2 linked regions of the Homo sapiens genome follow. The protein of the gene in region 1 purifies or fractionates together with the protein of each later gene. This does not show direct contact. Each region holds a gene or a part of one and is shown on either strand. Other genes may lie near its edges. The genes, in order: ROBO4 and ROBO1.

Region 1 (3,825 bases):
GCGGCTGCAGAGGCTGTCTGAGCTGGAACAGGGGCTGGAGAGCTGGGCCAGCTGGGGTGGGAGGCGCCTGACAGCTGGGACCTGGGGACTTGGCCTGGCTGGGGTACTGGAGGGCAGCTCAGCGATGAGGGAGCCATAAAAAGTGCTGGTGTCTGGAAGCAGGGGCACGCCGGGGCTTCGGGAGTCCCAGGAGAGCACTGTGACATAAATGACAGGAGGAATTATGGTGAGCATGTCCTGCTTTCCATCCCTGAGATCACTGCCCCCAGCTAGGCCCTTGCCCCCACTGAGCATGCTCACAGGAGCGACGACAGTCTAGTGGGTCCCGGGCATCCGCCCCCAGCCGACTGCTGAGGCTGCTGCTGCTGCTCAGGTCCCGAGAGCCAGAGGTGGAACGCCAAGTGTCTGCCAACCACTGGGAGTCACTGTGATCCATCCTGGGGCAGTGGAGGGAGGGGGTGAGGCCAGGAGAAACAGGGAGAAGTGAGAACCTTTTTGGCCAAGACTTCCTGTTCAGAGGCAGCAGAAGAGGGCAAGGAGATGGTGGCTTTATCCTTACTACTGCTTTTCAGCTTTTCACAGACTCCTTAAGATCTCTGACCTGGTCCCCTAAACCCAGCACCCCTTTCTTATTCCTGGATGAGGGGAAATCCGAGTCACCCAGAGCTGGGAGGTAGTAATGACAGACAGCTATGTATGCTGAGGTAAAAAGAAGACCTGAAGACAAATCTGGTTTGACAATCTCTATCTGTCACAGCTTAGCTTGGGTAAGTACATCTGTTGCACTTGGGTAAGTACATCCTCTCTAAGCCCCAGTTTTCTCATCTGTAAAATGATGGCAATAGGGCCTTCCACACTCAAGACTGATGGTCTGGGTTTATATGAGGAAATGTGAGATCACTCAGCTGGCAGAGCAGGAGCTTGCTCCATGGATATTGGCCTCTGGCTGCCTGAGTGATCCTTCAAGAACAGGGATCTGAGCAAGGAGCTTCTCTGCGTAAGACCTTCAATGGCCCCTCATTTACCATGATAGAGCCCAGGTACCTAGCATGGCTAAGAGGACCTTCCTTGGTCTGGCTTCCAGCTCCCTAACTATAGCCTTTGCTCTGACCCATCTCACACCCTATACCCGAGCCAGAACAAATGGTTTGTCTTTCCCTGTGGACATAGCAGGCTATTACTTGCTGCTTCATTGCTCTTCTCTCCATCCCCTTCTTACTGTCAGGGTAATGTGGAATCTTCTTTCTCCTATGTTTTTCCACATTGACCCCCTCCATGTGTCTTGTACCTGCTTCTGCGTGGCCAATACAGGATTGCACTCATATCCCCTCATGCCTGTCTCTGCCTACACTGAGAGATTCTGGCAGGTGGAGGCTATTCCAAAGGAAAGAATGAACCAAAGATCAGAAGGAATCTCCCTCAAGGACAGAGCAGGAGATCCTAGGGAAGCCACAGAAAGCTTAAGGCAGAGCAGACAAAGCCAGGAGGTAGCTGGAAGAAAGAAGCCAGTGAGCTCAGAAAACTCAAAACACAACACCAGCCAGCTTGGACCCCTGCTCTGGGCTGAGGACCTGACAGTGAAATGGCAGCTCTAGGCCTGGATTTGCTGGCACATAGTAGGTGCTCAGTAACTTCTGTGGATAGATGCAGACCTGGAGTGGGAAGCCTCCCAGAGGAGATCTAGCGAAATAAAGAGCCAAGAAGGCAGACAGAGAGATGAGGCGGTTACTTAGTACAAAACTCAGACAACGGGAGCAAGAAGGATGTGTTCTCTATCAGCATGATGTCCCAGAACTGCAGACTTGTTCTGGCAGCCGAATATACCGGAAGCAGAAGGGCCCATGGGCAGATCCTGTTTTTGAGAACAGTGAGGAAGAATCTATGATGTAGGCACTGAACACCCTCTGCTGGAGCTGCGGGTGGACTATGATGTAGGCACAATGGCTCAGTGAGAGAATTACTGAGTGCAAAGGCACTACTTGGTAGACCATGGGTGCACGCATAAGATGAGACATTTGAGGTGGTCGTCTCATGCTGATTATTCTCCACCTAGCGGGTGAGGCAGCAGGAGAGGTGGGGTGACAAGAGTCCTGGATTGGGGGTTTAGAAGGTTTTATGAGTTTCAGTTTACTAGTCTGTCAAGTGGTGTGATAGGAATATTAATGACAGAGAAATGAACTATCAGTTGGAGTTACAGGAGAGATTCATGTACGACAGTCCCAAACTCCCTGGCAGGTAGACTAGTACTCCATTCTTCTCTGTTGCAGCTCCACTGTCCCTTGCCACCCTCCCTTACTTCAGACCTCCCCTTTCACCTCTCACCTGTGTTTTAGGATGGCATCCTCACTGGTATATCTGTACAGACCTGGGAGAAGGCAGGAGGAAAGCTAAATCCAGAGGCTGGATCACCTGGTCAGAGATCCAAAGCCCCTGCACCATTCTGGCTGGATGCTGAGGAGGCCTGTATACATGTGGGTCCCCCTCAGACTCTCACCTGGGCCCAGGTGCACCCTAGCTCGGCGCCGGCGGTGGATACACACGGCGGTGCCCAGAAGCAGCAGCCAGAGTGCAACACCGCAGGTGGCAATGACCTCAGGCCGCTTCAAGGTAGCCCTCAGCTGCTCCAGGGTCCAGGGACCATGCTCACTGGGTTCTTGGGTGGCTCGCTCCATGGCCTGCTCTGTATGGGATGCAGAGCTCAGAGGGAGAGGGAGTCGAGGCATTGAGGGCCTGGCAGGCAAGGGGGAAGAGCTGGAAGTGTGAGGCGGGAGCAGGGAGAGAGGAAGGCGGGATGCAGGCTGAAGGGTAGGGTGGGTCTGTGGGCACTGCCCTCACCTAAAAGGAGGCAGACAGGTCTACTGGGCTCCCCAGCTCCAGCACCAGTGACTGCAGCCACTTGCACGCAGTAGGAGCCTGGCATATGGGTGGCGATTTCCAGCTGGGTCTGCTCACCAACTACAGTCCAGTTGGCTGGTGGCAGTGATGTGTTGCCCAGGCTCCAGACCTGAGGCACAAGCAGAGGTGAACAGCTTCCCCAGGCACCATCCCAGAAGCCAAGCCCTTTATCTGCAGATCAGACTCCAGGGGTGTGGTTATTCTGCCCTGCCATCCACTTGGGGAATGCACCCAATTTCCTATTCCCCTCCTATTCTCCCTACCAAGTGAGAGATACCTCTCTCTAGATCAACAGTAGAAGGGCACAAGCAAGCTGCTAAAACACATGTAACATAGCAATTCTCAAACAACAGCGTGCTTCCAAGTCACCAGGGGGGCCTGCTATAGTACAGTTTGCCAGGCCCATCTCTGAGTTTCTGATTTATGAGGCCTGGGAAAGGATCTGAGGGTTTGTATTCCTAACAAGGTCCTGGGTGAGGCTGATGTTGCTGCTCTAGAAGTCAAACTTTGAGCCCCACTCCCTGACTCACAGCCTGGTTTGATCTACTCTGTTTCTTATTCCTGTGGCCTTTGCCCCACTTTCCATGTCTGTAAATTGGGGATAATACCCCAGGGTGGACTGTGAGGTAAAACGGGATCATGGAGGTCAAGTGCTTGGCAGGGTCTGGAAGCCAGTGGGTCCTTGCTCAGCAAAAGCAGGTTTCCTTTGCTTCTCTGCCCAGGTACCTTTCTCAGTGCCCAGAGCAAGGGTATGCAGAACTCCAGAGAAAAGAGATGTCCTGGCAGCAGTAGGAAGGGCTATGACAGCTAGTGGGGGTACCTGGTAGCCACGGATGATGCCATTGTGGTTTTCAGCAGGTGGTGGGACCCAGCTCACAAAGACAGTGCCATTGCCAGGCTTTAGAGTCACTTCCTGAGGTGGGGCACTGG
Region 2 (3,825 bases), on another chromosome or scaffold:
TACACACATATATGTATGTATATACACCTATATGTAAGTATATATATACACATATACATATATGTATGTGTGTATACACACATACATATATGTATATAAGTGTATATATATACACACATACACACATATATATACACACACACACACTGCAGGTGTGCATGCATACATTTATTTTCTATTGTTTGTTTTTTGAGTCAGATGTATGTGTGAGTAAATTATCTTGCTAAAATTTCATGCCAAAACATAATAGTAAAAAATCAGATGTACAGTCTGCAAGATTTAAAGGAATAAAAATTACCAAAGATTTCTTACCAAACAACCCCTCCCCCCCCCAAAAAAAAACCCAATATTGCCAATATAGGAAATATTAAAATTATTGTATGGAATCTCTATGATGATAGAAGTAAAATAACCTGTGGAATTACGGAAAGGCGAGAGAGAAGTTGGATTTAAGTAAAGATGCTATGCACTATAAAGAACAAATCATAGAGCAGTCTGCATGTCTGCCCTTAAAGCGAATCCTGAGTGTCCACTGGACGTGGATGTGACGTATCCATGTGACCAAGTCTCTGTCCTCTAGAGGCCCATATTCTGAATGTCTAGACAGATAGATACTCATGTAATCATAAGTACAAGAAAAACTGGGTTGAGACCTATAGGAGAGAAAAAATGGCGATACCCATTTAATAGGTAGAGCTGTGTTGTCCAATATGGTAGCCATTGGCAACAGATGGCTATTTACATTGAATTTAATAAAATATAGTTTAAAACTCAGTCCCTCTTTTGCACTAGCTACATTTCTAGTGCTCAGTGGCCACGTGTGACTGGTGGCTGCTGTATCAGACAAAGTGGAGTAGACCATGTCCAATATCTCCAAAGTTCTGTTGGATAACACAAATATAGACAGATTGGCGAAACAAAATGAGAATGCAAAAACCACATGATCTTTATAGTATTTCTTAACCACTGTTAAACAAAACTAGAAATTAGAAATAAGAATCACAAAGTCCAGATGAATCAAATATTTCTGTTCCCTGACGGTTCATGGTTGAAATGCAGAATAGTTGAATTCAGTAGGATAGAGAAATTACACATTTTTCTTAAGATTATATTCACATTTACATCTTTAGTAACAAACATGTTAATTTATAATTTTTAAACATATCCAGTTAAAAACCAATGCTACAGGTGACTTGTTAATGTTGGTACCACTTTTGGACAACATGCATAAAATAATGACATTTTTACCATTGTAATTTAACTAATTTTTCTATTTAAAATCTATTTTAATTTAAAAATATGATTTCAGTTCTTCCTACCATTTTAATATTTTCAACTGCAGGCCATATATATATATATATATATATATATATATATATATAAAATGAATGTATATATTATGTATGTATATTCAGTTATTTAATGTCCAAATATTTCAATAGAGAGAAAACTGGAGTGGAAATGAGATATTAGATATTTAAGTATTATTTCAGGCTTATTTGATTCAATTACCCAGGTTACTATGATTCCTTTTGTTATTATTATTATTGTCATTTTATATTTCTTTGGTTGTCATTATGAAACCATGAGAAAATAATTATATAGCATGTTTTCCGGATAATGATTATCCAACAGGACTACAACAAGAACTAATAGAATTCTCCTTAGTACCATTTACTATCATTTTACCCCTGTTCCCATATCTTTTAAATGTAGGTATTTTATAAAATACCAAAATCTCAAGTTCTTTGATCTATGAATAGTTTTTTCCTTTGGATTTTTCATTTATGTGCTTTGTCTGTTGCTTCAGCAGCTAACCAGTAGCTTCAAATAATTCAGTAACCAAAGACTAGAAAATAAAAAGTTGACACATAAAGATATACATGTATATATTATTTTAGTGGAATTCCTATTAATGAGGTTATTAAATGAAAATTATTTTAAATTGGATGAATTGTTTACTTCAGCACTATCAGAAATTCAAATTTATTTAGTCTCTACAAATTCTGTGTACCCTCTTTTATTTTTTCAATTATTAATTTTCTTTAGAAAGCACATGTGGATATTTGGCCGTTTTTATTGATCTTATTTAAGCCCACTTGTACTTTACATAACGATTTTCTGATGACTCGCAAAGCTACGTAAAAAGAAATTTAAAAGGAATAACCACGCAGAATGATTTTTTCCTTTTCCTCTCCATTGCACATAGCTGATTGTATAGCAAATTATAACAACCAACTGGATAACAAACAAACAAATCTGATGCTCCCTGAGTCAACTGTTTATGGTGATGTGGACCTTAGTAACAAAATCAATGAGATGAAAACCTTCAATAGCCCAAATCTGAAGGATGGGCGTTTTGTCAATCCATCAGGGCAGCCTACTCCTTACGCCACCACTCAGCTCATCCAGTCAAACCTCAGCAACAACATGAACAATGGCAGCGGGGACTCTGGCGAGAAGCACTGGAAACCACTGGGACAGCAGAAACAAGAAGTGGCACCAGTTCAGTACAACATCGTGGAGCAAAACAAGCTGAACAAAGGTGAAGAGGCTTGCATGTATTCCCATCTGTTTCTGTATGATACTCTCAGCACCTCGACTAGATGTTGAAACTTGTCTGCGACTAGCAAGTAAAATCTTTTCTTCTGTCGCTGAGATTTTCTTATTTCTTTGGTTTCAAAATTTCCAGTGTCAAAGAGTTAATTAGCACAACAATAACCTTGGAAAATTTATTTTATAATAATATATAAGTATTTTCAAATGGTTTTGAGATTAATTTAAATTTAATAGCAGGTGAGGGATTGGGACGGACAATCTTTTATTCATGAGGCAGATGTACAACTGTCACAATACCTCGCATTTTCAATAAATAGACTATCCCATTCTTTCCACTAGAGGATGGAAGATAATTGCTTCTATGTGGTTATATAAACCAATGGCATTTTTATATCAACCTGAAATAAAATAATTAAATTAAACTTGAACTGGAGAAGTGGTTCAATTTGTTGTATGTCTCCCACCTCGTGTGGTTATTAAGACTGCTACAGTGTATAATTTTAGAACCTAAATTTCCTTGGTTGACCTGATTGAAGTCTGTCCGTATAGAACCTAAAATAAATTGAGTTTAGTATTAACTTGAAGCCGCAGAATAGTATTCTGTGGCCTGAAGGAAATGTTTCTGTATTGTAATGTGTATGAGTTGGAAAAGATAGGTGTTTGGTTTCTTTGTAGTCCTTTAGGCTACTGCTATAATATCATGATTTGCAAAGTTATACCTCTAGGAAAACCAGGATTGCTCTAATGTGAATAGATGGGGGCAATGCATCCCCACCTATTCCAGGTAAAGAATACACTGGAGATAATTGGAGACATAGACATTTTCTTTAGGTTTGGGTTGGGAACATTTTCTTTGAAAATGCGATTTATCACAGTTGAAGATGACAAAAATATAACTTAAAAATTTCATTTAAGTTAATATTATGTTTTAACTCGAGAATGAAGTCAGCTAGGCTTTTCTCAAGTTTAAGAAAGTACTTGATTGGTATAATAACCCAATTTAATAAATATGGATCGAGACTCCTGCATAAGTTCATAACAAAAACTGACAAAGATGAACAGGACAGTTTCTGTAATCATGGAGTTTGCAGTGGTGATTCAAACTATTGTCACATTATTCCTTCATAGTATATTGTTTTACTGTGGACTTCGGAAAGCCCTGAGAGCCTCCGCACAAATATTTCAGAACTCTGATTTATTGTTTATACTGCTTGTAAGCAGATTTGGTATGTCAGACCATAATAAAGAACCTGGAATGCAACTAGA

The links.
Region 2: the proteins of ROBO4 (region 1) and ROBO1 purify together in Homo sapiens (co-immunoprecipitation; one study listed by IntAct). This does not show direct contact.

The regions. Positions count from the first base shown.
Region 1 is NC_000011.10:124,891,366-124,895,190, forward strand, and holds part of ROBO4 (roundabout homolog 4 isoform 1 precursor), read right to left. Parts: coding exon 3,716-3,825; intron 3,005-3,715; coding exon 2,836-3,004; intron 2,681-2,835; coding exon 2,495-2,680; intron 2,366-2,494; coding exon 2,323-2,365; intron 768-2,322; exon of another isoform or gene 438-767; coding exon 301-437; intron 198-300; coding exon 1-197.
Region 2 is NC_000003.12:78,634,493-78,638,317, reverse strand, and holds part of ROBO1 (roundabout homolog 1 isoform a precursor), read left to right. Parts: intron 1-2,209; coding exon 2,210-2,545; intron 2,546-3,825. UniProt on the Homo sapiens protein: Receptor for SLIT1 and SLIT2 that mediates cellular responses to molecular guidance cues in cellular migration, including axonal navigation at the ventral midline of the neural tube and projection of axons to different regions during neuronal development.